7 linked regions of the Homo sapiens genome follow. The protein of the gene in region 3 purifies or fractionates together with the protein of the main gene of each other region. This does not show direct contact. Each region holds a gene or a part of one and is shown on either strand. Other genes may lie near its edges. The genes, in order: ATE1, WDFY1, GPR37, ABCB8, SLC6A3, PPP2R5D and FAM219A.

Evidence for each region.
Region 1: the proteins of GPR37 (region 3) and ATE1 purify together in Homo sapiens (affinity purification with mass spectrometry; 2 studies listed by BioGRID and IntAct, with this or other methods). This does not show direct contact.
Region 2: the proteins of GPR37 (region 3) and WDFY1 purify together in Homo sapiens (affinity purification with mass spectrometry; 2 studies listed by BioGRID and IntAct, with this or other methods). This does not show direct contact.
Region 4: the proteins of GPR37 (region 3) and ABCB8 purify together in Homo sapiens (affinity purification with mass spectrometry; one large-scale study listed by BioGRID and IntAct). This does not show direct contact.
Region 5: the proteins of GPR37 (region 3) and SLC6A3 purify together in Homo sapiens (co-immunoprecipitation; one study listed by IntAct). This does not show direct contact.
Region 6: the proteins of GPR37 (region 3) and PPP2R5D purify together in Homo sapiens (affinity purification with mass spectrometry; 2 studies listed by BioGRID and IntAct, with this or other methods). This does not show direct contact.
Region 7: the proteins of GPR37 (region 3) and FAM219A purify together in Homo sapiens (affinity purification with mass spectrometry; 2 studies listed by BioGRID and IntAct, with this or other methods). This does not show direct contact.

What each region holds. Positions count from the first base shown.
Region 1 is NC_000010.11:121,921,532-121,925,031, reverse strand, and holds part of ATE1 (arginyl-tRNA--protein transferase 1), read left to right. Parts: intron 1-702; coding exon 703-766; intron 767-2,620; coding exon 2,621-2,683; intron 2,684-3,500. UniProt on the Homo sapiens protein: Involved in the post-translational conjugation of arginine to the N-terminal aspartate or glutamate of a protein. This arginylation is required for degradation of the protein via the ubiquitin pathway. Does not arginylate cysteine residues.
Region 2 is NC_000002.12:223,935,336-223,938,835, forward strand, and holds part of WDFY1 (WD repeat and FYVE domain-containing protein 1), read right to left. Parts: intron 1-3,500. UniProt on the Homo sapiens protein: Positively regulates TLR3- and TLR4-mediated signaling pathways by bridging the interaction between TLR3 or TLR4 and TICAM1.
Region 3 is NC_000007.14:124,746,089-124,748,792, forward strand, and holds part of GPR37 (prosaposin receptor GPR37 precursor), read right to left. Parts: intron 1,256-2,704; coding exon 437-1,255; 3' UTR 1-436.
Region 4 is NC_000007.14:151,038,450-151,041,949, reverse strand, and holds part of ABCB8 (mitochondrial potassium channel ATP-binding subunit), read right to left. Parts: intron 1,683-3,500; coding exon 1,649-1,682; intron 1,453-1,648; coding exon 1,316-1,452; intron 1,123-1,315; coding exon 1,028-1,122; intron 852-1,027; coding exon 718-851; intron 1-717. UniProt on the Homo sapiens protein: ATP-binding subunit of the mitochondrial ATP-gated potassium channel (mitoK(ATP)). Together with pore-forming subunit CCDC51/MITOK of the mitoK(ATP) channel, mediates ATP-dependent potassium currents across the mitochondrial inner membrane.
Region 5 is NC_000005.10:1,417,941-1,421,440, reverse strand, and holds part of SLC6A3 (sodium-dependent dopamine transporter), read left to right. Parts: intron 1-737; coding exon 738-872; intron 873-3,500. UniProt on the Homo sapiens protein: Mediates sodium- and chloride-dependent transport of dopamine. Also mediates sodium- and chloride-dependent transport of norepinephrine (also known as noradrenaline). Regulator of light-dependent retinal hyaloid vessel regression, downstream of OPN5 signaling.
Region 6 is NC_000006.12:42,987,570-42,991,069, forward strand, and holds part of PPP2R5D (serine/threonine-protein phosphatase 2A 56 kDa regulatory subunit delta isoform), read left to right. Parts: intron 1-2,041; coding exon 2,042-2,119; intron 2,120-3,500. UniProt on the Homo sapiens protein: The B regulatory subunit might modulate substrate selectivity and catalytic activity, and might also direct the localization of the catalytic enzyme to a particular subcellular compartment.
Region 7 is NC_000009.12:34,403,071-34,406,570, forward strand, and holds part of FAM219A (protein FAM219A), read right to left. Parts: intron 2,895-3,500; coding exon 2,795-2,894; intron 1-2,794.

The sequences.
Region 1 (3,500 bases), on a different chromosome or scaffold from region 3:
GAACTAATAAGCACAAAACATTTTGCTAAGTTTTCTGAAGAGACCAGCATGTTAAATCATTGGGGATATTTATTAAAGTTTGAAGGTCTGATGCAGTCTGATTGCAGTGAGGACTTAAATTTATGCTGTCATAGAGACTATTGACTAATCCTCAAATAAATATAATTAACTTCGATGTGTTTTTTTGAATGAAAATATATATAGTGTCATTCTTTATTTGTGCTGTGTGTATGCCCAACTAACAGCTGTGAAGTATGTACAAACTTTTCATTTATCCAATATGAGTGTTTTGGAATTTTAACCTAAACACTCCTATTTTTTTTTTTTTTTTTGAGATGGAGTCTCACTCTGTCGCCAGGGCTGGAGTGCAGTGGCGTGATCTTGGCTCACTGCAACCTCCGCCTCCCGAGTTCATGTGATTCTCCTGCTGCAGCCTCTTGAGTAGCTGGGATTACAGGCGCCCGCCACTATGCCCAGCTAAATTTTTGTATTTTTAGTAGAGATGGGGTTTCACCATGTTGGCCAGGCTGGTCTTGAACTCCTGACCTTGTGATTTGCCCGCCTTGGCCTCCCAGAGTGCTGGGATTACAGGCATGAGCCACCGTGCCCGGACACACACTCCTATTTTTAAACCTCACACTTTGAATTTAAAAAAGAAAAAAGGTTACCCTGCCGTAATTAACACACTACTTATTTTTTCAGGCATGTGGGCACATTCCATGACAGTACAGGATTATCAGGATCTCATAGACCGAGGATGGCGAAGGTAAAGCTTCCAGATACAAAGAGACTTCCTACTGTTACTCAGGTTCTTGAAAAATACAGCATGCCTTTGAAATGCTTTCCTGTTGGAAAGAGGTTTAAGAAAAATTTTTATTATATTCTTTTATGTAGTGATTTTTTGTCTCCTTTTTAAAAAACTTTGTTAGGAAAATGTCAAATATCTATAAAAGCAGAGAGTACATTAGAATGAACCTCAAGTACCTATCACTAAGCTTCAGCAGTTATTAACGTTCTGCCAATCATGTTTGATTCTCCTGCTCCACCTTTTAATATTTAACAGCAAATTACATCAGTAGGTTATTATGACATTTATCCTATCAATAGATAGGCAATAAGTATGTATCTCTAAGAGAGAGGTCTTTTTTTCTTTTTAACTTATCCACAATGCTGTATCACACCTTACAAAATTAATAAAAATTCTTTGATGTTACCTGTTACCTACTTTTTATTAGATTTTCCAGATTGTCTCAAAAATGTCTTCTTTAACAGTTTATTTGGATAAGGATTTCCTTAAAGTCCACACATGGCCTGTTTTGAGTAGTTATTTTTATGTGGATGATTTTTAAGTAACTCTTAGGTAAAGTTCCTTGTGTAAATATAAGTAATATTAAATACTGTACGCTAATACTTGCCAAAGACGTGGGATTGGGAGCACCAGCTGAAATATCACAACTTTCCTTAAACTTAATGAGATTCAAAAGGTAGACATAGGTCAGATTTTAAAGGACTTCACATGCCATGATAAGGAACTTTTTTTTTTAGAGACATGGTCTCGCTCTGTTGCCCAGGCTAGAGTCGCTCTCTTGCCCAGGCTAGAGTACAGTGCCATCATCATAGCTCACTGTAACCCCAAATTCCCACACTCAAGTGATCCTCTTGCCTCAGCCTCTGCAGTGGCTAGGACTACAGGTGTGCATCACAACACCTGGCTAATTTTTCAGTTTTTTGTAAGATCTTGGCTATGTTGCCCGTGCTGGTCTCGAACATCTGGTTGCAAGTGTTCTTCCAGCTTAGCTTTTCAAAGTGTTGGGATTATAGGTATGAACCACCATGCCTGGCCAGAACTTTTTAGAAGGCAGTCATGGAAGGATTTTATGGTAAGAGAGAAATGTGAAGGAATTTGTTTTAGAAAAGATTGTTCAGATGGCTGAGAGGTATTTGAGGGGGGGTCATAGAGGCAGGAAGATGAGTTCAAAGGTTATTGCGCTATCCAGATGTGCGATGATGAGGACTGTCACCTTAGTGGCAATGGTGATAGAGAAGAGGGGACAATTTAGGATAGGGTTTAAAATGAAGGAAAGCTTGCTAATAGGATATAGAGGTGAATTCCAGGGAGGAGTTTAAAATGACTCCCAGGTCTCTGACTTGAGAACAGAATGAACAGTTCTGTTAGTACCATAGACCTGGAATGCATGGAAAGAAGCGGGTTAGTTTTGGGGTACTCCGTGCTGGTGCATGTGGAATACCCAAGTGTGGTTGTCACAGGCATCACATACATGAGTCCCACAGCATCGTGGGCATTTCTCTCATTGCCCTTGTGGTATTGGGGATTGGTGGCAGGTGAAGGCAGAGCAGGGGTGGCAGATGCTGGTGAGAGGGGAACTGAGATGATTGGCCGTGGGGTACACAAGTAAAGCTTTAGGAAATAAAAGGCAGGGTTCTAAACTTTGCTACACGCACTTTGAAGATTATTTGGCTTATGAAGAGTAATTAAACCTACATGCATTTCTACAATGTTGATTAGATTTTTAACCTTAATTTAATGCTCCTGTGCTAGGCTGTTTTGGTGCAAGTGAAAAATATATAAGACATTAACAAACTATTTTTATAATTTTAGAAGTGGAAAATATGTGTACAAACCTGTCATGAATCAAACATGTTGTCCTCAGTACACAATAAGGTAAGAATTTTAATTAGTAGAAAGAGGATTTATAGTATGAAGATTGTGTATAATATTTTAGTAGTCTCTTGTGCTTTTTTAATGTTTATTTCCGCTCTAGGTAGATGTCCTTTAAAAGGAAAAGTAAATGAGTTATGTCTTTTCTTCATACTGATGCTGTATTTATGTGCTGATCAGTAGGTTTTAGTAATATTGTTTGATTGGTTCAGATATAAATATGTGAAAAAAATACCCTCTTAATTTAGCAATCTTGTCAATGAATGCCATGAAATATTGGGAAAATGTTGGTAAATATTCACATTACTTTTGGATATTAAATATTATAGGACTTAGCTTAGAATTTTCTGCATTCTGGTGTATTGCTTGACACAGTGCTTGTGTTCAAGCAATGCTACAGGCTCCTATAAATTACTTGGTAGGTTCACGTTCTCATGTTGTGGGATTCAGGAGGACAAGAGAGACCTCGGGTTAAAACAGGAGAAACTTTATTGAGTGCACTTAGGCCCAGCTGACTCAACGTCTAAAAGACTGGGCCCGGAACAAAGACTTTTATACACAGTTCACAGAAGGGGGTGGGCTAGCTTGAAGCAAGCTTACAGTGGCGTGAAAGCAGGGATACAGAGGCAGGACAAACTCAGGATTGCACATGACCGTTGCCAAGCAACCCAGATGTCCGTTATCTAGGTTTGCCTGGGCTTATCCCATAATCTTCACTATGGTGCCCAGGCAGCTGCAGTTCAGGCCTACTCAGGCTTCTCATGACATTCATTGTACTTCTCAGATAAAACAATACTTGAAGTCACTAGTTACAGAGAAC
Region 2 (3,500 bases), on a different chromosome or scaffold from region 3:
AGTGTTTTGAGCAAAGTAGTATGTGGTTGACAAAGAAAAATGAATAAAGAGATTATTTCACCATGAAGTATGACAAAAATACATCATGAAATCAGTATATATGTGCTAATAATGTCTTAACAACTCTCAGAAAGATTTGCTGAGCATACTTTGTAGAGAGGGAAGATGAATACCTAAATTCTAGAAACAAGTATCATTCATTATATTACCATCTGCTTCTTAGGAAAGAACTAGCAGATTATTAAAGCTAAACACAGCAGAGGAAATGTCTACTGTGCAGAAATGGTTAAGTCTGTATCATTCAACCAGTAGCTAGTTATGCAGTACCTGGTGGAGTACAGACTATGTGGGAAGATAAGATGAATAAACACAAAGCAACAGGAACTAATACCTGATTGTAATTAACTAGGCATCATCAGTAATATACTAGGAGTGTTGAAGGAAGCTCAGAAAGGACAGAGAATGATGGGCTGGGAAGAATTATTCAATGGAGGAGGTGGAACTTGAAGTGGATCTAGGAGATGAAGGAGGGTCTGAATACAGGAGAGAGGGCAAGTGAGGTTCCTGGTGAGGGAGGCAAAGGCACCCAGGTGGGAAATGTACCAGGTGTGAGTGGGACAGAACACACACTGACTTCACTGGACACAAAAGAACCATAATAAATGAGAGATAGAAGGTGGAAATAAAGCTTAGCAGGGAGCAGTTATGGGGTTCCCAAAGTCCTTTTTTTTTTTTTTTTTTTTGGGGACAGAGTCTTGCTTTATTGCCCAAGCTGGAGGGCAGCAGCATGATCTTGGCTCACTGCAACCTATGCCCCTTGGGTTCAAGCAATTCTCGTGCCTCAGCCCAGCTTCTTGGGAGGATTACAGGCATGAGCCCCTACACCTGGCTAATTTTTGTATTTTTAGTAGAGACAGAGTTTGACTATGTTGGCCAGGCTGGTCTCTAACTCCTGGCCTCAAGCAATCTGCCTGCCTCAGCTTCCCCATGTTCTGTGATTACAGGCATGAGCCACTGCGCCCGGCCCCCAAAGTCCTTTTACAGACATGATTAAATAAGGAGCTAATGAAAGGTCATGAGCAGGAAAAAGACACAATAAAAGCCTAGTTAAAGATAGGAGATTAGTGGGACAGATCCAAGTACAGTATGCTGGAACTCAGGGAAGCCAGTTAATAGGCTTTGAAAAATGAGGTTTAAAAGATGATGAGGACAAACACTAGGGTAATTATGGGCAGGTGGGCAGAAAAGAGTTCCCACAGCAGGCCTGCTGCTGCTGTCCTTAGAAAGTCTTGCTTGCAAGGTTGGCCCTTGGCAGGTGTCTGGGACCTTGTTTATCCAGAGGGGACCTCACCATTCCCTAACTCCTAAGAATGGCTCACTGTGCTTCATGCCTGTATAAAATATGTGGTTTATGTTGACCACCTACCTTCCTTCTGAGAGTTTGGAATTTTGGAACATTAGCCAAGGGCACCTACATGACCAGCCTCTAACACTGAATAAAGTCTCTAAGGAGCTTCCCTGATAAACAATATTTCACACATGTTGTCTTAATTCAATCTGAATTAGCCTGTCCTGTGACTCCACAGGAAGAGGACTCTTGGAAGCCTTGTGTCTGGTTTCCTCTGGATTTCACCCCATGTGCTGATTTTGTTTTGCGTCTTTTGGCTATGATAAATCACAGCCATGCGTATGACTATAATGTGTCAATCTTTCTAGTGAATCAATGAACCCGATCTTGAGGATCTCAAATATAGCAGGGGAAAGATGTCTAAGTGAAACTAATCACTGACATGACCTGCAAGTAACCAAATATGGAAATAAAGAAAAGGCATGACTCAAAGGCAGTTCTAAGAATTTAGGATTGTAAATAACCCCTCAAATGGTATTGTCCTATTCAAACAGGAAAAATTTTTTTATTTTCACTTATTCACGTGCACACACAAACATGCATACAAAGTAGAAACATATTACTCTTTCGTAAGATTAAAGTAACAAAATGCAAAATAAGTGGAAATGAAAATAATAATAGCTAACACTTGTATAGTGCTTTCTCTGTCCCAGTCTTTAAGATTAAAGCAATTAAATGGAAAATAAATGGGAATGAAAACAATAACAACTAACACTTGCATAATGTTTTCTCTGTGCTAGGCACTGTTCCACGTGGTTTAATTCACCTAATCCTCACAAAACTCTGTAAAGCAGGTACAAAACGGACTCATGTCCATTTTGCACATGAGAAAACTGTGATACAGTGAGGTTAAATAACTTGTCTAAGATCACAGGGCTGGGATTCAAACTGAGGCATTCTGGCTCCCAAGCCTTTGTTCTTAACTATGCTATAAAAAGAAAATGATTGTAACAATGAAGGATCACCCTAACAATACAGGAGTAAATGTGTGGGGTGGCCACCCAGGCTTCCTGCCTTCTCAAGTCTTCAGTTTATTTTATAACACAAATTAAAGTCTACTTTTAGGCTCTGCATGACAATGAAAATACAGCAGTTAACATCCTGGTTTTCTGTATTAACTAATGAATTCCAGCTATGCCAGCCTTCCTCCCAGGCATAACACTTAAAAATCAAGTTATTTATTTAAGATTGTTTCTATGTGAACAATTGGTAAATACACAAATTTTTCCCCAAACCATCTTAATAAACTTAGATATATCTAAGTGGAAGCAAATATATTACATATTTGGTATAATTTTTAAAAAAGGAAAATGCTAAAAAACATCTAAAAGTTGGTTTTCTGTAATCTTTACTCTTTCCCAGCCTAAGTGCAACATCTCAAAACATTTTAAATCACATGAGATTTATCTTTAACTTGGGACAAACAAAATTGAGTTTCCTGCAGAAACCAATCTTGGCCTACGAGCCCCTAATGCAACAGTATAAGTACGTCCATCCACAAACTCTATTTCTCAAAAGTGAAGACAGTAGGCCTATAGCCTTAACTTATTTATAAGGCTTTATAAAGCTTTTACCTTTTAAAAATTGTATCATTCAATCAACTGACTGTCTACATTTTTGGTGCAGTCCACAGCAAAAAAGTCCAAAAAGCAAACATACTGGTTCCTACTGTCTCACCATTTTAGTTCCGCTCTGAAAGCAGAGTCTTATTTTCTGTTTCCCCTACCAGGAAAGTCACCACTGTAGTTCAAATTCTTAAACTTAAATTTAAATTAAAGAGCTTAAGGTAATTATTACTTCAGCAAAATACTAATGACTTCATACAAGAAGTAGTACCATTTTCTATTAACCATTCACGAGACATTAATCCATAAAGGTTTCTAAGCAGAACCCTAAGCTGACCACCCAAACCACTAATGACCTGTGACTCCCAGGTGTAATGGCATTAAGCTTTGATATTCCACATTGGCTTAATACTCTTTGGAGTGCTGACCGTATCTAGCTTTGTCATATGCAGTTTGATTACAGTGAACTAGGTGGCTATCTGTGAATGACCCCAGGTAAATATATCCCAGAAGGTGACAAAAAAAAA
Region 3 (2,704 bases):
CTACTTTGTGAATGCTTCCAAGTACAAATCATCTCACAATACCATATACAACATACTTTCAATCACAACTCAAATATAAAATAACCTACAAAATCACATTGCTATAATCAATATACAATAATTGTATTTTTAAAAGAAGAAAAAACGTTAGCAATTTTAAGTTAAGTTGCAGTAACTTTTTTCAAATAAAATATTAGCACCATACCAGATAAAATAATCTAAAACTATTGGCCTTCTCATTCTTCTTAAATAACTAAATAGAAACTTTTTTTCAAAGCACAAATATTAATTTGTAAAATCAGTTCTACAGTAGTTAATATTTCTTTCTTTATTGTTTCTTTTTTGCATTTTTCCCTATAAGGAAAAATATGAATTAAAAACTTTCACGGGATATGAAAATCAAACAAATAAATCTGACCCAACCAAGTACTGTCCTTCAGCAATGAGTTCCGACAGAAGCAAAAGTGGACATTTCACGGCGTATGGTACTGAAAGGCGAGAGTTCGAGTTCCGTGGTGTACTCGTTGTCATTGTCATCACTGGTCACCGTTGAAGACTTCTGAATGCATTCCTCACAGCAACAGCAGCAGCACTCCATGAAGGCCCGACTGAAGGGTTTGCAGAGACAGAAAAGGAGGACTGGGGTGACACAGGACTTAAAGAACAAAAGGAACTGGCTGATGATATTAAGGAGGTCCATTGTCTGCTGTGAAACCCCTGTAGCCATGTAGGCAGTAACAATGTTGCAGATATTTTCAGGAATAATGCAAAATCCATATAAAATGGTCAGTGCCACTACTGTACAGTTCATCTGACTCTCTAGTTGAATCTGCCGTTTATTCCCTCGGGTACAGGCTTTCTCTGCTTTGCGGATTTTCCTCGCAGTCACTAGAGAGCAGGTGATGGTGAAAAGCGTGGGCAAACAAAAGTAACAGCCAAAATACCACCACAGTCTCGCACTGTCGTAGGTGAGGGCTAGAACATAGATGGTGTCTGGTAAATCAGGAGAGATCTTAATAATGCACCTTTCTGCCGGAGCTCGGCCACTAAACCCCAAATCCTCCTTGCTCAGCTGGCGGAGAACAACTTCTGGAAGTGCTAACAATAGAGCTCCCACCCATATAACAGCAAGTTTGGCAGTTGTTGAGGAACAGTTTTCGATCATTTCGTAGTACATCTGTACGTTGGTGGCAGCACGGAAGCGGTCTATGCACAGAGCACATAAGGTGAAAGTGGTGACTCCCAGAGAAGCGACCTGTGGGGGAACATAGAAGACATTTATTCCCGGTGTCCCCCGAAAGATCAAAGCACTAGGAAATAAATGCAGATTGGCAAAACTGTAAAAAAAAATATGGATAAATAAAAATGAGAGAGAGAGAGAGAACAGTTTTCCAGAATGAGGCATGGGTAACTGGGCTCAGGACGTCAGCTGAATCATTGTAAGCATAAAAAAAGAAAACACACTGTAGTGGTTTGAGGGTCATGGAGTGCAGAACATTTAGGACTGGAAGGATCCATAAAGATCAGCTAGTCCAATCCCTTTTTATTATAGATCAGAACCCAGATACACTAAAAATTTTATTCACCACGAAAATGTCTGCCACTAGGAGATCTAGATAAGGAGTCAGGGTAGTGCAGAAATTCCCATTTTCATTGCTGACCAGGATGCTCATGTTTTCCAGTGTGAGGGTCAGTAGTGTGCCTTACACACAGCAAACACTCAAGAGCTTATTGTCTCCAATGGACTAAATGATTGGAGGGCTCCTCCAATTTTTCCTAAATGCAAAATAAAGTATTACAGTATTATTTTCAAAGGCATACACTTACGGAAAACAAGAAAGGGAAATTCTCCAGAGGCCAAAATCAAAAAGGAAACAAATTTCAAACAGGCCAGAGACCCCTCCCTCTTCATGCTGCGTGTTTGCCCTAGGGGCACCTGCCAATCCTGGTGAGGGTTTCAAGTTAGTTTTAGCTAGAAAAATGGGGCAAGGTGCCCAGGTGCACAGAGACAGGAAACAGAGCTGGGGCCAATGTGGGTGGGGATTGGGTCAAAGACTCCCTGTGAATTTGGAACTCCTCAAATGCTGACATCTTTAGAGGTGTAAAGGGAAAAAAGAGAGAGAGATAATGAAGAAATCTGCCTGGATGACAGGGTTTGGGTCTGGATGAACTGGGGGAAAAGGAGGGAAAAAAATGGCAAATTCTAACTGGGAGCCTGAACTTACATGGTGTTAGGATCAGAATTTCCAGGATCTACGTGGCTCAGAAAACCCAAAATACAATTTAAAATAATCCCAGGCACCTGGTTAAAATCAAACATAAATCCTCTCTGGAAGAATGCACTTTAAAACCAGGCCTCAAAAAATCCTATAGTTAAAATTCAAGGGACATGGGTTCACAAAATCAAAAGTCACAATATGCAAGAGACAATGAGCCACTATGAATTTATATGCCAAAGATACAGAATCAGACATAAGAAGTATATTTATCATAAAATAGGTATGTACATCAAATTTAAAGAAATAGGAGATACTAAAATAGAACATGTAAAAATACAAGAAAATATGCAGAAAATAGCCAAAAAGAATGTCTAGATATCCCAAACACAGGAAAATTTTGGAGCATAAAACTCTTTGACAATAACCACATGAAAAACTGTATTCAAAAAGGCACTGCTCTTATAAGCATATGGTCCAGACATCTA
Region 4 (3,500 bases), about 26 Mb from region 3:
GGGTTATGGAGACAGAGTCCATAGAAACATTCTCTTTGCCCCAGAAACTGGAGGGGCCACCATACACAATGGGACAGTCTATCTGGTGGATTAGATTAGGATCTCTTGAAGAATCAGACGTTCAAAGTCAGAGGTGAAGTGAGGATGCAGAGTGGCCCCCAAAAGGGAAGGACAGTTCGACTTCCTACCAAGGGCCCAGAATCCCTCCCCAGGAGTGGGAGTGGGAGGAGCTGGCAGGGCAGGGCGCTGGGAGTTGGGGGCTTGCATTTGCCTTTCTTCTGCACAGGCACTCTCCCTGGCGGACAGCAGGCATGCCCTCTTCATTCACGGCCCTCAAAGGGAAGGGTGGACCCTCGCTGGGCAGTGCCACCTCAAGCAGAGGGAGAACGGCTGCAGCTCAGCACCTCCACTATAGGCTTCTCTAGACCTGGATGCTATGGGATTTGCAGAGAATCTGAGGGATTCCCCATCTGTGTAGACTGCTGTAAATGCGGACAAAGCGTCCCTGCTCTGGGAGACCAGGCAGAGCTGTGGCTGCTCCCACGACAGGGATGCCTCACCCAGACAACAGCTGAGGACATGTGAAGACGGCCAGGGTCTCCCGAGAGCAGCAAGGATGAGGGTGGGAAAGAAAGAAAAGGCACCTGAGGACTAAGGGGGCAGGGCCCAGGGGAGGACGGGCAGTGGGAGCCAAGGGCTGCCCATGTGGCCCCGCACCTGGCTGATGAAGCCGACAACCTGGCCCCGGAGCCAGGAGGGGTCAAGGGTGCGCAGGTCCCGCCCATCCAGCATCACCACGCCTGCCGTGGGGTCGTAGAAGCGCTCCAGCAGGGAAGCCACGGTGGTCTTTCCTGGGGAATTGGGTTGAGAGGGAGGGAGGCCAGGGATTCTAGGGATTGTCCCAGGAAAGAAGGCCCCTTGTGGCAGTGGAGGAAGGGACCCCACCGGGGGCTCACTGCTCCCGGCCTTGCTCTGAGTGGCTGCTAGAGAAGAGTCAGAGGGTGAAGAGGTGGTGGGCTCCCCTTACCTCCGCCAGACTGGCCCACGAGGGCCACGATCTTGCCAGGGGGCAGCGTCAGGGTGAAGTCTTTCAGCACCTCGAAGCCGGGGCGGCAGGGGTAGCTGGGAGGAGCCGAGAGACCCCCAGTCAGACCAGGCTCCCAGCCCTTGTTGCCCGGGTCCCTCCTGAAGTCTCCCTGTAGCCCTCTGAGAGGGCCTGTTTATGGGGGACATTAGTCCAGACCTCCACCCCCGAATCCACTCGCCTCATCCCCGGCCCAGGGACCCATCCCCACGCCTGCTCACCCGTGCTGACCTGAAGCAGACGTTCTGAAATGTAACGGAGCCACGCAGCTGCTCTTTGGGGACGCAGCAGCCCCCAGACAGTGGGATGCAGGGGTTCAGGGCCATGTACTCAAAGACCCGGGCACCTGCACTCAGCCCCCGGACCACCTGTGGGAGGGGATCCAAAGTCCGCAGGGAGGCAGGAGTAGGGGTGACAACAGCATCTCCAGGGAGTGGCCATGGCTCTGGGCTGGGGTCTCCCCAGCTCCTCTGCCCGCCCACACCCAGTCAATAGGCAGCTCCCACAGCGGCACACACGGCACAAACTCCACACCCCAGGCCCTCCACCCTACCGGCCACTCACCTGCCCAAACAGGACAGAGAGGTTGGCCATGGACCTGTCAGAAAAAGGAGAGAGGGGTGGAATAGATGGGAACAAGAAGAGCCAGAGGAGGGGAAGGAAGCCACGGTGGGGCGGGGGAGCAAGGAAGCAGGTGGCCTGTGGCCAAATGCAGAGACTGCTCCTGCACCATGGGGGCGTAGAGCCCTGGGACGTAGCAACACCAGATCGCTGAGCCCTGGCTCCCTCCTTGGCCAGATGAGGATGACAGCTGTCCCTCAGCTCAGCCCAAGCCCCTGGGAGGGGGTGCTCCACGAGGAAATGGAAGTGAAGGCACAGGCCTCTGTGGGTGTCCTCCAGTGCCCTGGCCTGTGGTCTGCAGGGTGAGGCCTGTGCACACATGCAGCGGTGATATCAGCCCACGAGGAAGGGAGCCCAGCTGACCCACGGACTCCCTGCTCGGCCCTGAGGATGCGGAGGCCGCCACCATGAACAGAGATCAAGGGTGCGTGGCTTAGAAGGGGAGAGCAGATCTAATGCTGCAGACTCTTGGGGAAGCAATGACTTTGGCAGACATTTAGGTGGAAGAAGTGATGTTAAATCTTTTTGGAGAAAGAAGAAAACAGAAGACACTGGGCCACAGGGGAACTCTCAGGAGACCCCAAAACAAAATTCCCTGAAAAAAATTTTTCTCATGAGCTTGCCCTGCAGATAAGTATACCCACAGTGTTATCTGTCTAGACAGTGGGTGGCCTCCTTCGTCCCGGCAGGGCCGGGGTAGGGCTGGCCGGCTGCCAGGAGGCTGAGGAGGAAGGTGAGTCACTGGTCCCTGACTGGCCTGGCTGACCTGTGACAGTGTGTGTATGCCTGGTCCCCTCCTAAGTAAGAGGAAAGACTGACTCCCCAGCAACCCTTCAGCTGCAGACTCACTTCTTCCAGCACTAGGGTGGGGGTGAGTGGGAGGAGCCTCGAAACCCAAAAGGAAAAGGTCCCAGTGGACTCAGTGCAGTCAGCACTTGCTAAAGGCAGCCGGGGGAGGCACCAGGCAGGAAGGAGCCAGCCCAGCCAGCTATCTGTTGATGAGCAGGGGCACATTCTCCACCAGAGATCTGGAAGACATTAGGGCCTGGCAAAGGGGCTGGGCAGCAACTGAAATTCAAAATGCACATGACTCATTGGAGTGTGATGACCCTGCTCTCAGGGGCCGTGGGCTGTAGGCTACGGGCCTGTTCCCAGGTGGAGCCTGGCCCTGATTCTGATGAGGCGGCTGGGCCCCACTTGCTGTCTGTCTGGGCACCTCCCCATCTCCATCAGGAGTACTCAGGATGGGCTCATAGGTTAGGCTGCCTGAGGTAGGCCGGGCCATCCTGCTCCCCTCTCTCTGCTAGACCCCAGTGCCAATGCATGGGCCCTTGGCTTAGCTGGCAGGACCCTGTGGGAAACACATCAGCTGCTTTATGCAACAAATCCAAACCCCCAAGATGAGTGGGGAAGAATCTCCACATAGGCAGCGCTAGAAGGACCTCCAAGAGGATGGGTCTAGGGCCTGTGGCTGTGGGAGCAGCCAGCGAAACAGCACAGACAAGCCCCTGGGGGTTCTTGTGTGTGTCATAAAGCTGCTGGATGGCCAAGCAGTACGGTGGGAGGTAAAGTCAGAGTCTCAGGCCCTAAAGGGGAAGTGGGGGTCCCGAAGCGGGAGGGTTGGGGCTGGACAGTGCAGCCACCCTCCCCACAGGGAGACTGTCCCACCACTGCCCACCACAGAGGGCTAAGGGGTGATTTTATTAAGGGAGCCACTGGGCTTCTTTTTTTTTTTTTGAGACGGAGTCTTGCTGTTGCCAGGCTGGGGTGCAGTGGCGCAATCTCAGGTCACTGC
Region 5 (3,500 bases), on a different chromosome or scaffold from region 3:
CTTTGGGAGGCTGAGACGGGCAGATCACCTGAGGTCAGGGGTTCAAGAACAGCCTGGCCAACATGATGAAACCCCATCTCTACTAAAAATACGAAATTAGCCAGGCACGGTGGCACGTGCCTATAATCCCAGCTACGTGGGAGGCTGAGGCAGGAGAATTGCTTGAACCCAGGAGGCGGAGGTTGCAGTGAGCCAAGATCATGCCACTGCACTCCAGCCTGGGCAAAAAGAGCAAAACTCCATCTCAAAAAAAAAAAAAAAACTTTGGTTGTTATATGGGCCAAAACCAGTTTTGACCAAGATACGACTCCTCCCTTGGAAAAGTGCGTGTAGTATGGCACCAGCCACGGGAGCCTCCCGCAGGGACACAGCCCAGAGCAGCCCTTCATCGTGCCACAGTGCCGTTCACCAGTGTGAATCCACTCACGTCCCACGCATCAGAAAACCCCCATCAGCCACTCCCAGCTACTCTGGCGGACCGAATGCAGAAAAGGAATGTGCTTTCCCTGCCAAGTTGTTCTTCCCTTTCCATCCCTGGGGAGGGTGTGCAGGACAGAAAGTGTCTGACCTTCTCACTCCAAGGAGCATTTGCTGAGCTGGCGTCCCAGGAAATGTTTGGGAATTGGGCCTCCCAATCAGAGGACAAGCCGTCAGGGCAACCCGGTGCCCTTGTGCCAGTGTCTGCTCCCACCAAGGGCCCTGCCTGTGCAGCCTGGTGACACTGTCCTCTCCTGCAGGTGGTATGGATCACAGCCACCATGCCATACGTGGTCCTCACTGCCCTGCTCCTGCGTGGGGTCACCCTCCCTGGAGCCATAGACGGCATCAGAGCATACCTGAGCGTTGACTTCTACCGGCTCTGCGAGGCGTCTGTGAGTACAGTCTGCTCACTGCTTCACAGTCCACAGGGGCTCTGGCATTCCCAGGTTTCCATATGCATTGCCTGCCAGGGCTGAGAGGTGTCAGAGTTGCAGACACCAGGGTTCTTTCCTCGGGAAGCCAAATCCCAAGTACCTGTGATACAGCACGAGTCATCTAAATCAAATTACATCAGAAACTCCATCTAGACTCAGGCTGCAGCTTTGGTCAGCAAAAGAAGACATAATTCAGGGTTAAAATATTTGGAGAAAGCCTCCCGGAGAGAGGAGACTCAGCTGGGCCATGGGGGATGGGACCCTTGTCCAGAAAGGGAGGAGAAAGGGCTGCACCCTTCCTGGCAAACAGGCCCAGAAACAGAAGCAGCTGTTGGCGGAAGGCTGGCATGACAAAAATGGCAGCTCCCTTGGGGCATCGTTGGAAATCAGGTGGACTAAGTGGGGGAGGTGGCAGGCCCCAAAGCCGCCCAGGGGCATCCATGTTGCTGTGGGAGGACAATGCAGCAAGAGGGGAAGGGCCATCTCAGCTGGGGTATGAGGCAGGAGGCCGTTGAGAGGTGCTGCCCTGTGTGGGTGGGCCGGTGGAGCCAGGTCTGGGGGTCATGAGGCAAGTGTAAACCCAAGGCAGAAGTGGGAAGGAAGGGGAGAAGGGATGGGCGGGCATGGCTGCAAGCCTCCCAGGAAGCCCCAGGGAGGCAGCAGCTGACAGGTGCAGTGAGAGAGGGCACCTGGACATGGCACCTATGAGGCTGCAAAGCAGTTGGGTGGGGGTGGGGGTGGAAGTGTGCCTGCAGCACTGAAGGGGAAGCCCTGTGGAGACAGGAGCCATGGGTGCAGCAGGCGTGTGGCCCACGGGAGCCAAGGAAGAGAGAGGAGGACAACCAGGGCAGCAAAATCAGCTGTGGCCGGGGGCCCACAAGTGCAGAGCTGGAGCCAGACAAACCATGAAGTCAGCAGGGCGTCTGGACCCCAGAAAGGCCAAAATGAAGCCAAGGGGTGTGTTTGCAGGACCATGGCATGTTACAGAATCAAAGAAAAATACCACAAGGACAACGTAGAGCCTAGTGCTCCAGCTAGGAAGAATAGGCAGCCCCAGGAGGAGGCAAAACAAACACCAGTGCATGTGAAAAGATGCTCACTGGAGAACAAATTACAAAGATGAGATGTCAGAAATTAGGTGGAGACAGTGAATAGATTGGATGGATGGATGGATGGATGGATGGATGGATGGATGGATGGATGAATGCTAGGTAAGTAGGTGGATAGGATGGATGGATGATAGGTGGGTAGATAGAATGGATAGATAGGATGGGTGGATGGAAGGCTGGCTGGCTGGATGTATGGATAATGGATGGGTGGATGGAGGAATGGATGATAGGTAGGTAGCTGGATAGTATGGATGGATGGATGATGGATGGATGGATGGATGGATGAATGGATGATGCATGGGTGAATGGGTGGATGAATGATAGGTAGCTAGATAGGATGGACAGATGGATAATGGATGGATGATGGATGGGATGGATGGGTGGATGGATGATGGGTGGATTGCTGGATGATGGATGGCTGGGTGGATGGATGAATGATAGGTAGGTAGCTGGATAGCATGGATGGATGGATGGATGGATGATGAATGGATGATGGATGGGTGAATGGGTGGATGAATGATAGGTAGGTAGCTAGATAGGATGGATGGATGGATGGATAATGGATGGATGACGGGTGGGTGGATGGATGATGGGTGGATTGCTGGATGATGGATGTTTGGGTGGATGGATGAATGATAGGTAGGTAGCTGGACAGCATGGATGGATGGATGGATGATGGATGGGTGGGTGGATGGATGGATGGATGGATGATGGGTGGATTGGTGGATGATGGACAGATGGGTGGATGGATGAATGATAGGTAGCTGGATAGCATGGATGGATGGATCGATGATGGATGGGTGGATGGATGGATGATGGATGGGTGGATGGATGGATGATAGGTAGGTAGATAGGATGGATATACAATAGGATGGATGGAGATAGATACATACACACACATGTACTTCATATATTCATAGATGATAGACAGTTGATAGATTATAGAGATGACAGATAGATGATAGATTGGTGATGGATTGATAGATGACAGTGATAGATGATAGATAGATAGATGATTGATTGATAGATAATAGATGATGGATTGATGTATAGTGAAGAGAAATCAGGAAAGAAATGGAAGGAAAGGACAATTGCAGGTCCTGGAGTGAAAGTGCATGAGGTGAGGCCCAGGGAGGCAGCCATGGGCACTGGCTCTGGTGTGGCACTGGGCAGAGGCCTGAGCTGCACACACAGATCAGGGTGAGGAGGAGGCAGGCGCTCCCCTGTGACACCTGATCCAGCCTGCAGCTACCTGGCCAGGCAGGTGGCTGATGACCAGCATGGGAGCCACATCAGGGTATGAGCCTCTCCACCCACTGCCCACCCAGCCACTCTCGGCTTGGCTCCTCCCCTCATGCTGAAACACTGGCCACCTGCAGAGTCCTGACTGCGGGGCCTGGCCATCTGCCTCCAAACACACTGTCCCAGGAACTGGGGTTGCCTTGAGGCTCTGACATGCTGCCCAAAGGACAGAGGG
Region 6 (3,500 bases), on a different chromosome or scaffold from region 3:
TAAGAGTTGGGCCCAAAACACAGGGCTGAGTCCAAACATGTTCTTTTAACCTCTGTGCTACACAGCATTTGACTACTGAGCTGGGCTGAAATGTGTGTGCTTCACCTGTTCTGCAGGAGCCAGGGAGCAAGGGTGGTAGGCCTGGTTCCTCCATGCCCACTCACACCCACACACTAAGGCAGCTGGATCTCTCTTAGGCTCATTCTTTGAAAGATACGTCTGAGGCATCATGCTGAGTGCTGTAGGGTGGGTGGAGGGGTACAAAAAAGAATAAGCAGCTTATGGTCTAATAGATTGGAGATGTATGAAGATGGGTCAGCTTTGTTCAAGGGGTTCATGTCTGGGGTGTGTGCAGACACCTCAATGTTGTGTCCTGCCTGCACCCTGCCCCCGGCCTATTTCTCTCCACCCCATGCTCTCAGCCACTGATAAGGGTCAGTGTGGCCAGCTGGGTTAGTATACAGCAGGAGCGTGCTCAGGCCAAAGAAGGAACTCCTTCCCCCTACTGCATGGAGCTGCTCTACACCACACCTTTCTTCCTCCCCACCTCCAAGAAGCCTTCCCCCTACTCCAGCCCACACAGAGCTCTCTTCTCCCTGAAATCCTTTTGCCCCCATAGTCACAATAACTCGATTTAACACTTCTCACTGAAGGGGCTTGGCTGCTATTGAATTGCACAATCTCAGAGCTGGAAGTGATTTCCAAGATCCTCCAGTCCTCATTAAAGGCTTGAATTTCTTTTGCAACATGCCTTACAGGAGGTCACCAAGCCCCTGCTTGAATGTTCTCAGGGGTTGGGGAGCTTTCGGCTTCACTAGGTGGCCAGTTTTAGTGCAATTGCTCCATGATAAAATTCTTCCTTGTTTGGAGCTTCAGGTGGCTTGCAACTTCAGCCCATTGCTCTCGTGCCTCTGGTCCATATGGACAAGTTGCATCCAAGGCATCCAAGTTGCATCTTCATTTGTTTAAGATCCATCTTGCTTCTCCATCCCTCATGACTCCTCCCTTCCATTGTTAACTATCCCAGTTCCTGCAGCTGTTGGTCTTGGGACATGCCTTTGAATCCACTCCCAGTATGGGTTGCATTTCCCTCTAAGAAACACTAGGATTTGTCATGGCCCCTCCCAAGCCTGATGCTCATGACTGAACCAGATCCTCCAGGATAGCCCTGTCAGTGCCAAGCAGTCTGCACAGGTCTTTTAACAAGATGGAAGGTCACATGAGCTGCACATGGATGATTTGTGTTGAGCTTGCAGTCAGACCTAAATCCCCAAGTCTTTTTCACATTTTCCCTATCCTGTCCCTGTGCAGTTGCTTTTTTTGGCTCGAAGCATAGGAAGAGATGCTGGGCAGGCCAGGGCTCTGAGCCAGCTGCCAGGTTCCCAAAGGAGACTTCAGACTAGTGCTCACTCTTTGTAACAGTTCAGGGTTTTACCCCCATCCCTGTCTTAGTGCTTGTCAACTGAGGTGCTCTTGGCATTTTGAGTGGGACAGTTCTGTACCTGTTAGCATTCCTGGGCCTTACTGATTAAATGCTGAGTAGCACCCTCTTGTCTGTGCGCTATTTGTGACATCCAAAAATTGCCTCCCAGTCTTTCCAGGTGGCTGTGAGGGGAGAGTGGTGACTCCCTGCACTCCAGCATGAAAGCCTCCGGCACACCTTTGACCACTTTAGCCAGAAACCAGTGAGCAGCTGTTCCCTGATGCTTTTTCTTTAAGCCTCCTCACCCTGGTTCTGACCTGAGCAAAGGCCCTCCCAGGCCCAACCTCTGCACCAGCCTGATGAGGTGAAAGATGGAGCATTCTCACGCTGAATTAGTGTGTGTTTGGGGTGACTTCCTAACCAGATTCTAAACTCTTTGGAGGGGCTGAATCTCCTTCTGCGTAGATCCCTCCACCCACCCCAGCTCCGCACAAGGTAGATTCTAATTGATTGATTCAACTGGACAGAGGATATTTGCAACAAAGATCTAAGGGAGCCAGATAAGACCTCTCCCTTCTCCTGGCATCTGCTAACTTTACTTTCATCTTTTCCTTTCAGGAGCCCCCCAAGGTTGCCAAATGCACAGCCAAGCCTAGCAGCTCGGGCAAGGATGGTGGAGGCGAGAACACTGAGGAGGTAATGAATGTAGGCGTAGCCTTAGATGTGGTGCAGGTGCCACCCGCAACTCCATGATGGCTAGTTGGGTAGGGGATCCCAGGGGGTGAGGCAGAAGGGAAGGCTTCCATATCCTGGGAGGGACCTGGACAGCCCATCCAGACTGCCCTCAGGCAGGATTTACCTTTGGTTGGTATAGACCAAATACATTCTCTAGTTCTTCAGACTCCCCAGAGATTCCTATGAAAGTTGTTTCTCTGCTTACCAACTTGGAATGTTGAGAATTCCTTTTTCTTAGGGCAAAAAGCGGGAGGTTCTGGGATCCTGGGCAAAAGGGGAAAAGTCCACAGACACTTGATGGGGTAACAAGTGACTTCAGCATGGCTCGGGTGGGGCAGGGGATTGGGAGGGGCTGGTGTCCCTGAGTTGGGCCCAGCTGGGCCCACTGCCCTTGGTCCTGATTGAATGGCAGCATGACTAAAAGACAGTCCTGAGCAGAGTTCAGCGCAGCTTAGCAATCTCGGGTTATAAAGCAATAAACAGCAAGCCGAGAGAACACCAGAAGAGGGAGAGACTTAAGGAAGTACACAGTATGTCCATGAAAGTTTGGGAGTGTGCACAGTGGGATGCTCTGGATGGTGAAAGATCCTGTGAACATACACAGCGAGCATCCACCACATCCTACCTGGAAACTGGTGTTTGGTGCTTTCTCTGCTTTCTCCCTCTGCTCTAAACTGTTCAGAGGGATGAAAGAGAACTGGAAACACAGCTCTCTAGTTATGGACAGGTCTTATGGTTTTTTGGGAGAAGAGATTGATGAGCAAATGTTTGGGGTTAACTATGCGTTTAGATGTTTCTCAGTACTTCTGGTGATAGGTCACCTCTAAAGAGATACAAGCACTTTTCACACCTCATTTTAGGCCTCATTTAAGTAATGAGAAGCTGAGTAGGTTTTCCCCATTTTATAGGCATGGAAGTTGAGGACCACAGAAGAGGAATTATTCTTTCCTCTGCACTTATGCAGTATTCTACTTTTTTTTTTTTTTTTTTTTTTTTTTTGAGATGGAGTCTCTCTCTTGTTGCCCAGGCTGGAGTGCAATGGTACGATCTCGGCTCACTGCAACCTCCACCTCCCGGGTTCAAGCAATTCTCCTGCCTCAGCCTCCTGAGTAGCTGGGATTACAGGCGCATGCCACCATGCTTGGCTAATTTTTTTGTATTTTTAGTAGAGACGGTGTTTCACCATGTTGGCCAGGCTGGACTTGAACTCCTGACCTCAGGTGATCCACCCGCCTCAGCCTCCCAAAGTGCTGGGATTACAGGCGTGAGCCACTGCACCCGGCCCTTATGCGGTATTCTAAATATCTCCTTAATAATCCTTATCACTCAGCTCTGTGACGAT
Region 7 (3,500 bases), on a different chromosome or scaffold from region 3:
GTACTTGATGCCAGGGAAAGGCTGGCGGGGGAGAGACAATCACAGAAGGATGGCGCAGTCAGAGAGGGCTTCCTTTAGGTGACACCATGACCTGGAGAGAGGTGGACATTCTAGGAAGGAGGGATAGTGTGTGCAAAAATGCATTTAAAAGTGAGCATAAGTGTGGCTCTGGATAGAGGGGTGAAGAGAGAGGTCAGGTTAGAGAAGTAAAATTCATTTATTCAGCCACTTATTCAACAAATATCCATGTCACTAATTATAAGTCTGGTCCTGTGCTAAGGGGCCGAAGACCCTCTCTGGTTACAAACTCAGAACATGAAGGACTTGAATGCCAGACAGAGGAGTTTGGGATTAACGCAGAAGGAAGAAGAAGCCACTGAAGGTTATGGTGTGGGAGGTGCAGGATGGGGCTACAAAGTAAGGGGCAGAAGGCTGGGGGAGCCCATTTGGCTACGCTGCCTGAGTGGTGCTCCTGACTCCTTTGCCAAGGTCTGAGTTCTCCAAGGTTCCAAAGCCTACCAGCTTCATGGAGCTGGCCATCAGGTGACCCAGTCCACTGCCTGGTATGTGACAACTGTTACCAGAAGTAGCTTCCTGGGTCTTGGAGGAGTCCCATCTACTCTTCCCTACTCATCTCAAGTAAAGGCCAGATCTAGGAAAAGGAACTGTTAGGTGGAGAGGGACACTAGGGAAAATGACTCATAAAATAGCCAAATGCTCCAGAGGGTAAGGATGGGAAGGACCTTTACAGCTACTGTGACTCACTTGGAAATTTCCCCTGACCTCATGTCTCTGAATCTCTGTCTTCTACTCTTTGACCCTCTTTCTTTGCCAGTGCTCAGCTGATTCCAGCTTTTTCCCAGCTTCTTTCCAGCAGGTGGCAGCTGCCATTACCACTCCAGGCCTCTAGGGGGTGCAATTTGCCTTAAAGTTCCTGGTGGTACTAGGTGCAACTGGGACAATGCTGTGAATTTTCATGAGGAGCTTTGATGGTAATGTAATGGGGAGAAAAAAAGATGTTATTTTAAAAGCATGCTGAAATTGTTTGAAATAGTGGGAAAAAAGCAAACAATAAACTGGCAAAACCAAACTAAAGACTACTATACAACCATTTAAAAGAATGAAGTCACAATATGATGACATTGGAAGGAGCTCCAAGATTTAGGTGGTGGAAGAGGGAAGGCCAAGTTTCAGAAAATGTGCACAATATGATACCACTTATGTTAAAATACAAAGTAAAACTACAAAAACTGAAAAGGCTTGGAATGGTTACCTCTTAGGAGGAGAATGTGATGGGGGAGAGTAAAGAAGTTATGCTTGTTAAAATATTTGTATTGTGATATTAAACAATAATAGGCTGGGTATGGTGGCTCATGCCTGTAATCCCAGCACTCTGGGAGGCCGAGGTGGGCGGATCACTTGAGACCAGGAGTTCCAGACCAGCCTGGCCAACATGGCGAAAGCCTATCTTTACTAAAAATACAAAAATTAGCTGGGCGTGGTGATGCGCGCCTATAATCCCAGCTACTTGAGAGGCTGAGGCAGGAGAATCGCTTGAACCAGGGAAGCGGAGGTTGCAGTGAGCCAAGATCATGCCACTGCACTCCAGCCTGGACAACAGAGAGAGACTCTGTCTCAAAACAACAACAACAACAACAACAACAACAACCAACACCCCTGATAAATAAAATTGGCTGCAGTTTTAATCTGATGTCCTAGGAATAGAAACAAATTCCAAGGAGAGGACTATTCTTGTTTAGAAAAACAGCTCGAGGGGCTCCCTGGATGTGGTCTGGAAGGACAGAAGCAAGCAAGGTAAGAAAAAAAAATAGTAGTTGAATAATAAAATACAGGCCTCTGTGGAAAGGAAGGAGAAAGTTGTAGGCAAAGGGCCCTTAGGACTGAGGAGGCATCAGTAATTGTTGGGCAGCTGGAGCCTGAGGAGGAGGATGGACAGGAGGGTGGCCTTGATGGCAGAGGAACTTGGAAGGATAGTAATGACCTATATTTAATTGTAAATTCTTTCCTGTATGTCCTGTTTTGTAATTTCTCTTCAAGAAACCAAAGTTTTCATAAAAGTGTGTTATATACAGCAGCCATGAGACAGTGAAACTTTGGTCCCTGAAGGGAGAGGGACAGCCCATGAGGTGAAGGGAGGGCAATAGTGGTAGGAGCTGTGGACAGTGGCCAGAAGCGAGGGGACTTCACAGGATCAGGCTGCACAGTAAACTGACTTTGGAATGGACATGAGACAAAGCCACAAGGGAAATGTGACCCAGAAAGGAAGGGAGATATTTGGGTTTTCTAAGAAACGAAGGGAAAACTCCCCCAGATAGGTGCCAACTGGGCCCAGAGATCTCTAGATGGGCTGAGATTGTAATCGGGAGAGGGGCTCGGCTTCTAGGGTTGGAACTCTCTTTCCTTTCTATCCCTTAGACATAACAAGTAACATCCCACTTCTAAGGCAGCTTCCTCTCAGCCTGATCCAGTGTTTGATGGGACTTCCAAGTCCTCTCTCTGGGGTTCCATGCTTTTCCCCCTGCAGCTATGCCCCAGAATACCTGGAACGTTCTTGGCTTCAGAGATGCCTCTTAGAGTTTCAGGCTCCTGCAGAGAACTGTAACTGCCCTCTTTGCCTGCAGGAGACAAGGTGCCTCGCAGTGCCAATGACTTGAAGGCTTGAGTCTTGGAATCATCTAGGCTGAGCTGGTTTATTTGTGGCACCTCATTGTAGACCCAGCCCAGAGTATCTTGCCTACTCCCCACATCTCCCTCACCCCCCAGACACACTCACCCAGCTTCACTTGGAGCGGGGATGGTTTGTAATTCATGGCTACTGACTCACCCTCCCGGGCGTCACAGTCTCCGTCAGAGATGGAGGCGGCGGCTGGGTCCTGTGGGGAGAAAGCAGTAAGACAGAGAGTTGTTAGGGAGTGAAGACAGGGGGCTGCTCTCAGTCCTGAAGCTAGCCTTCCCACCTGCCCTCTGGGCTTCTGTGAGCATTCACCCCTCAGAGCAGGCAGGGCATTCAGGGAGAGAGGGGCAGACCCATCTACCGTGGGACAAAAACACTGGGCTAGGTAGAAGAACCAAGGATCTGGGTTCCATGTACACCCAACTTGGTGTCTGTCCTCAAAGTCCTGTGTGGTCCAGCCTCCTCCAGAAAGCCCATCATGATTTCTTTAAACTCACAGGACTTCCTTCTCCTAACTCCCATACTAGTAGCCCTTCCCCTCAGGCCCTTCCTGTGTACTTGCTTGGCAAGGTCTTCCTAGGTTCCTGTGAGTTTAAGTCTGGGTTAAGGGGAGAGCAGGTGCTGTCTGAGATGGGTCTTCTCCCTCTGTTTCCCTGTGCTGGACAGGTCCCTTCACAGGATCCAGAGAACTGACTGACCAAGCCACACCAGCCTTCAAGGCTACAGCCACTGGACAAAAAAATAGTTCTAATGAGGACTTCTCCAGTTCACAAATGACACCTAAAGAGTGTCTCCGGGGAGAACC